Linked DNA regions of Homo sapiens. The protein of the gene in region 1 interacts with the protein of each later gene in a pairwise test. Each region holds a gene or a part of one and is shown on either strand. Other genes may lie near its edges.

The links. Proteins that work in one complex are often made in the same cells at the same time.
Region 2: the proteins of EBP (region 1) and DEFB127 interact in binary tests that used the Homo sapiens proteins (3 or more experiments, as listed by UniProt).

Annotation. Positions count from the first base shown.
Region 1 is NC_000023.11:48,520,145-48,523,744, forward strand, and holds the start of EBP (3-beta-hydroxysteroid-Delta(8),Delta(7)-isomerase), read left to right. Parts: upstream 1-1,663; 5' UTR 1,664-1,763; intron 1,764-3,554; 5' UTR 3,555-3,600. Other genes in the region: PORCN (protein-serine O-palmitoleoyltransferase porcupine), read left to right, coding at 231-332. UniProt on the Homo sapiens protein: Isomerase that catalyzes the conversion of Delta(8)-sterols to their corresponding Delta(7)-isomers a catalytic step in the postlanosterol biosynthesis of cholesterol.
Region 2 is NC_000020.11:155,241-159,067, forward strand, and holds the start of DEFB127 (beta-defensin 127 preproprotein), read left to right. Parts: upstream 1-2,213; 5' UTR 2,214-2,304; coding exon 2,305-2,353; intron 2,354-3,533; coding exon 3,534-3,784; 3' UTR 3,785-3,827. UniProt on the Homo sapiens protein: Has antibacterial activity.

The DNA of each region.
Region 1 (3,600 bases):
CTTTATATATTAGGGAGATAACAGGTCAGAGAATGGGATCACTTTGTTTTTAAAATGATTTTTAAAGAAGAAGACAAAAACTATATCTGGTCACCTTTCATATGTACCTAGGCCCTTCTGCGGGGCCTCGCCTAGAGCAGTCACAGAAATGTCCTTGGGCAAAGGATGGGTTTTCCTAAGAACTTCTTTGTCCTTGCTAAGTGGGACCATCACCTCTTTCTCTCCCACAGGGCTACGGCATGGCATACACTGTCCACAAGTGGTCAGAGCTCAGCTGGGCCAGTCACTGGGTCACTTTTGGATGCTGGATCTTCTACCGTCTCATAGGCTGAGGCACATCTGTGGACCCTCATAACCCTCTTAAGACCCCTCTCAGGGTGCCACTGATGGGGGATGAGGGAAGGCCCTCTCTCTACTCCTTGACCCCCTCCATCCTTGACCCCCAACACCTCAACACACACACACACACACACACACAAAATCACACCATTTTCATGCCTGTCAATCCCCACCCCACCACAAGGCAGGAAGGGGGTGGTGCCTGCTGGGGCCTAGAGGGGGATGCTTGGGGAAACAGAGAAGGGGAGATCCAGGGCCTCCCCGCCTTCCTTCTTCCTTTTTATATACAATTTGTTATTGTCAAATAAAAGTAGGAAATATTCAATAGGCTTCTTCTTCACTGCTCAGAGGGGAATAGGAATGAGTGAGGAAGGGAGCACAGCATGGATAAAGGTTTGGAAGCTGGAAACCATGAAGAGAGAGCAGACTGTGATTGGTTCATGGTTAGTTTATGATTGATTAGATGATGAGCCTGAAGATGGCAGGATCCTGGTCCTGCTTGGTTTGATCAGGGCAGGGACAGATTGCATAGTTGGATGTGGGGGAGGCCTGATTGGCTGGAAAACTGAAGGATCCCCATTCTGATTGGTTGCTCTGAGTGGGACACAGAGGAGAGAAAGCAAGAGAGATGAAGGGTTGGTGCCTATTTATCCTTAGGACTGAGGGTTGTGGGTTCTAATTGGATGGGAGGTCTGGGATGGGTCTGGATTCTGATTGATTGCTCCATCTGGGGGCCCACTGGTGGTTAGGCGTTTGATTGGCTTTTTAGAACTGGCATATGGAGATTGAGGGTCTTCATGCCAATTGGTCAGTAGGACTGAGAGGCCTGGGTTCTAACTAGTTCTTCTGACTTGAGGTCGGGAGAAGAGAGAATGACCGCTGCTATTAGGACTGAGGAGTTCTGAGCACTGAAGAGCTGGGGAGGGGGTGGTTGCAGTGTATAGCGTGTGATCTGCTTGTAACAGTTTCGTTGCATTATACTAAGGGTTACTCTACCTAGAAAAGGGCGGAGGTGAAAGGATGCAACGCAACGCTAATTTCACCAGCGGAAGAAGCGGGTACAGACCTTAATGAGTCCCCGTTTTGATCGACTGATAAGGGAATGGGGAAATTGAAGCCAGGACTCGATGCAGATTGGCTACGGATCCAAAACGCCCACTAACCTTGGCGCGTCCCAGTCTCCACCCCAAACCTAACTCAGGTGAAAATGGCGCCACGCGCGGGGGCGGGGCTAGAGGTACAAAGAGAGTGTCTATTGGTTGGGAGCGGCACGGGCCGCCTTCTTCGCTTCACCATTGGCTCGCTCCGTAAGGCAAGAGAACCCACTAGGGGATGAGCCCGAACTAGGGATGTGACAGAGCGCGAGACCCAGCCTAAAGAGAGCCCGGAGCCAGCGTGGGAGGCCGCTGCCGTCGCGCGCCTTGGTGAGTGCCCTCCACCCGGCCCCTGCTCCCTCCCCCAGCTCTCCCCGGCTACGCGGCCAGCCCTCGGCGTGCCAGCGCGAGACCCTTTGCCACCCGCCCCCCCCACCGCCCTTTTGCGCCTGCGCGAGACCCCCAGCTACCGCACGGTTGTCCAGAGGACAGAAGATCCGTCTTCTCATTGGGCAGCGGGACTGGAGGGTTCTGGTTCGGATTGACCGGCTTTGTGTTCCGTTCTAGCGCTGCACGCCAGACACCGGCCTTTCAATATCCGTCTCTTCCCTGCAGGTTGACGGCGTTGCACGCTCTCGCGGGGAGGCTCTGGCTTTCCAAACGCTGGCACCGAGGGTTGTAGTTCTGATTCGTTTTCTTTCCTCTGTCCCCCAGTTGCAGTTTTCAGGACTACGTGGGGGAGGGAATAGCTTTTTGTTGAACGGTTTAAGACGCTGACCTGTGCAACTGGACCACGCCTGGTTCCTGTGTCTCTTACCAAACCGTGACCCCGGAGCACAGGACTGGGTTTGGTGGTCGTGAGCAGTTTGTGACCCTTGAAGGAAGACACCAGGCCTGGTCCTGTATCTCCCTCGCCAGACTGTGACCAGGGAGGGCTGGGATCAGGTGTTGTTCCCATGTGCCTCCCACCAGACTTTGACCCCCGAGGGCTGAGACCGGGACTGTTTCTACCACATCATAATATGGCTTCTAAAGGGCTGGAACAAGCTTTCAGCCTTTCTGTGGCCTTGTGTTTCAGTCATGTTCTTTTTCTTTTCTTTTTTATTTTATTTTGAGACAGAGTCTCGCTCTGTTGCCCAGGCTGGAGTGCAGTGGCATGACCCCGGCTCACTGCAGCCTCTGCCTCCCAGGTTCAAGCGATTCTCCTGCCTCAGCCTCCTGAGTAGCTGTAACTACAGGCGCACGCCACCACACCTGGCTAATTTTTGTATTTTTAGTAGAGACGGGGTTTTGCCATGTTGGCCGGGCTGGTCTTGAACTCCTGAGCTCAAGTGGTCCACTCGTCTTGGCCTCCCAAAGTGCTGGGATTACAGGCGTGAGCCACCGCGCCCGGCCTTCTTTTTTAGAGGCAGAGTCTCAGACTGGAGGGCAGTGATGTGGTCACTGCTCACTTCAGCCTTGAAGTCCTGGGCTCAAAGCGATCCTCCTGCCTCAGCCTACCTACTAGCTGGGACTACAGGCCTTTGTCACCACACCTGACTGATTTTCTTATTTTTTTAGAGACAGTTTCGCTGTGTTGCCCAGGCCGGACTTGAATTCCTGGCCTCAGGTGCTGCTCCTGCATCAGCCTCCCAAAGCACTGGAATTACCTGCCACGGTGCCTGGCCTTTAGTCATGGTCTTAAAACAGAATGTAGGCCGGGCGCAGTGGCTCACGCCTGTAATCCCAGCACTTTGGGAGGCTGAGGCGGGCGGATCGTGAGGTCAGGAGATCAAGACCATCCTGGCTAACACGGTGAAACCCCGTCTCTACTAAAAATACAAAAAATTAGCTGGGCGTGGTGGCAGGCACCTGTAGTCCCAGCTACTCGGGAGGCTGAGGCAGGAGAATCGTTTGAACCCGGAAGGCAGAGGTTGCAGTGAGCCGAGGTCGCACCACTCCACTCCAGCCTGGGTGACAGAGCAAGACTCCGTCTGAAAAAAAAAAAAAAAAACGGAATGTAATTAGAAGTGTTACAATCCTGTCTGTTAACTGGTAAATTCGGTCCATTTACATTTCTCATGATAATAAACTATTTGAATTTGATTTTATTATCTCATTCTGTACTTTCTATTTGTCCAGGTTTTTCTGTTCCTTTTTTTTTTTTTTTTTTAACTTCCTGCCTATA
Region 2 (3,827 bases), on another chromosome or scaffold:
AATTATATGTCTTCCCTAGGACTAGATCTTAGCTTTATACATCTCACATAGCCATCAAAATAATGTTCAACTTATCTTTCAGGGTTTGCAATCTTAGTTTTTGGCCTGTGCAGATTCCTTTCATTTTTGACGGTTTCTCAATGCAGTAATTTCCTTTTTACATTTACCCAACTTTTTTGGTTATTTTCACCAGATACATTGTTCAATATATCTATTCTACTATATTCTATTAATAACAGTCTACTATATATGTGTCTTATTGTCTAATATTGCTGAAATCTTTTTTTAATCCAATAATGAATCTCTGTCATCTAATCAGTGAGTTTAAGCCATGTGAATGTATTATAACTACTGATCTATTAGGACTTTTTTCTGCCCTCCAGTTGTGACTTATCTATTCCTCATTTTTTTTAGTTTCTGTTGGATGGATCATATGTTCTTCTGCTAATATGAATATTATAATTTTATTTTTATTTGTTTTATTAAAAATTTGTCCTTGCTCTTAGGACCCATTCCTATCCTTATATTTATTATTACTAATTTAACATCCAGCTTCAGAAATACAACTTTAATAGGAAGGCTTTTTGTATTTCTCCTGACTGCTCAGACTTAGGGTCTTTATTTGATGCTCCACCACCAAGTCACCTATAAGGAAAGTTTGCATTCACAGGAAGACTATAAATAATAAAACCAATCCCTTGACTAGGACTTAAACCATGTAAAAGCTGGTGGCAAAAGTAAAGGGAGGTGACCCTTGAGACCTCTGAGGTAACTGCTCTTAAATTTACATTTGCCTCTAAAAAGGATTTCTTATATGTCAACATCTCTCTGTTTAAACATATTCTTGTGTAAAACCACTACGTGACCTGAATAATGGCCATAGGGCTCATCTCTAAGCCAACTGGCTTATTTATTTAATGCATCTCAGTGGTTAACAGGGTTGAAATTTTTTGAAAACTGCAATCAATGATCAAAGAATGATCTAGGTAAACATCGATTCCTTGTGGCAACATTTTAATATTTTCAAAGACAAGGTACAACTGGTAGAAAAAAAATACCCTCATGCATCTTTTTCTTCTAATTGTGGTAAAATATATGACATAACATTGGCCATTTTAGCCATTTTTCCTTTTATTTTTAGTTGACACATAATTGTACTTATTTATAGGATACAAAGTGATATTTCAATACATGCATATAATGTGTAATGATCAAACCAGGGTAATTAGCATATCCGTCACCTCAAACATTTATCATTTGTATTGGGAACATTCAAAATCCTCTCTTCTAGCCTTTTAAAAGTATACAATAAATTGTAGTTAACCATATTCACCTTACAGTGCTACAACACCAGAAGTCATTCCTCCTATCTATAATTTTGCATCCATTAGCCAATCTCTCTCCATCCTCCCCTCTCCCTAATCATTACCAGCCTCTAATATTAATATCTGCAACACTACTCTCTACTTCCATGTGCTCAACTTTTTTAGCTCCCATATATAAATAGGAACATGTGGTAATCTTTCTGTGCCTGACATTTCACATAACATAATGTCCTCCAGGCTATCCATGTTGTTGCAAAGGACAGAATTTCATTATTTTTATGGGTGAATAGTATTCCATTGTGTGTGTGTGTGTATATATATATATATATATTCCATTGTGTGTTATGTATGTATAGTATTCCATTGTGTGCATATATATGTATATATGTGTGTACATATATATATACATAATATATATTCTTCTGCACATGGAAATCCAGTTTCTCCAGCATGATTTATTGAAGAGGGTATCCTTTCCCCAGTGTATGTTCTTGGTGCTTTTATAAAAAATCAGGTGACCTCAGATCAGACCCAACTACATCATACCTTCTTTCGAAATGTGCAAGAAACCTACTAGAAATTCTTATTGTTAGAGTTTCAGATTTATGTCCTGGTTTATACTGCCACATTCATTCTTGGAGGTGAGTACATTTCGATCTTGGTCCGGCTGCGCAGAGAGTCAAAGCAGGAAAATCACAGATTCTTCCCAGCAGTCTACAGCCTACACAGCGGCATTTGGTGCGATGGGATGGAACATGCTGTATCTCTATTCCATGTGGGGGTAAAGTGGGTGGCCTGAAATTTCCTGTGTCTGCCTGCATGATGCAAAGCTCACAGTTCAGAAGCTTAAGGACACACTTCATATCATCCCATCTGTTCTGGTTCAGTGCATAAGAATCTAAGTCTCTGAGGAAGGTAGCATAGTGTGCAGTTCACTGGACCAAAAGCTTTGGCTGCACCTCTTCTGGAAAGCCTGGCCATGGGGCTCTTCATGATCATTGCAATTCTGCTGTTCCAGAAACCCACAGGTAAACCAAACCAGAAGCTCACTCAAATCAACAGTGGGATGGAGCATTTTCAGGAGCCAAAGGGAACTTCATAATCCACACTAAAGGGAAATAGAGCCCCCAAAGATGGCTAAAGTTTATCCAACATCATCAGAAATTTCCTCTTTCTGGAGCCTTATTCCATGTTACTATCCTTAAAGAGGAGTACTCACTGAGCTAAAAAGAGGTCATAATTTCTTCTGGGAAAGATGTGTTGTTATAGAAAGGAATGATGCCAATATCTAGGGATACCTTTATGTCTTTGGATATGGTTTTTACTCTGATGCTCAGCTATATTTCCTTTTACTCAAATATATATATGTGTGTGTGTGTGTGTGTGTGTGTGTGTGTGCATGAATAGAGGAAGAAGCAAATTTTGGAGTTAGGTTTAAGAAACATGCCTTCAATATCTACTAGTTTGTCAACTTTAAGTAGTGAAGACTCTAGGAGCCTCAGTTTCCTCATCTATGGAGATAATGACACCTGGTTAACAGGGGTTTTATTAAATGATATAACCTATGTGAAGCTTGGCACATACTGAGAACTCAAAAATTAGAGTTTCCTTTCCTCTTTCAAAACCAGATTTCTTACATGTGTCCCTTATTATAAGAATAGTAATGGCCTATTCCTGACCCTCTACATTCCTAAGACCCAATAGACTACTACCTTACTGGATAACATGAAAGTCATTCTTGACCCTGATAGTGGGTTTGAACTCAGGAGAACAGTTTGATTCAGACATAAACACATAGTAACAATACATTGTTCTCTGGGCATCAGAGGAGGTGCAGTAGAAGGTAGTGCTCTGGGAGCATTCAGGATGCAGGCAGATTTGCTGAGGTTCCTATGTAGAGCATAGTTCCATAGCCTAGAATCAAGGGTTCAGCTCCTTTATTTTCTCAGATAAGATCTTATGTTCTTGGCAGAGTCTATCAGATGTTAAGGGAGGCCTAAAACCTCACAGGACCTAAATATAAGTGATCCAGTTAAATACAAACACTGAGGTTGACCTTGTCGGAAAATCCTCTTCAGAATATATGAGGGTCTGCCTTGTGGATACCCCATACCCCTAATTCCTACAAGCCTCCTCTGTCTTCCCCAAAACCAACGTGCCTTCAGTCTCAAACACTGATATTGTTCTATTGCTCCTTTCTGTGTATAGTAACCGAACAACTTAAGAAGTGCTGGAATAACTATGTACAAGGACATTGCAGGAAAATCTGCAGAGTAAATGAAGTGCCTGAGGCACTATGTGAAAATGGGAGATACTGTTGCCTCAATATCAAGGAACTGGAAGCATGTAAAAAAATTACAAAGCCACCTCGTCCAAAGCCAGCAACACTTGCACTGACTCTTCAAGACTATGTTACAATAATAGAAAATTTCCCAAGCCTGAAGACACAGTCTACATAAATCAAATACAATTTCGTTTTCACTTGCTTCTCAACCTAGTCTA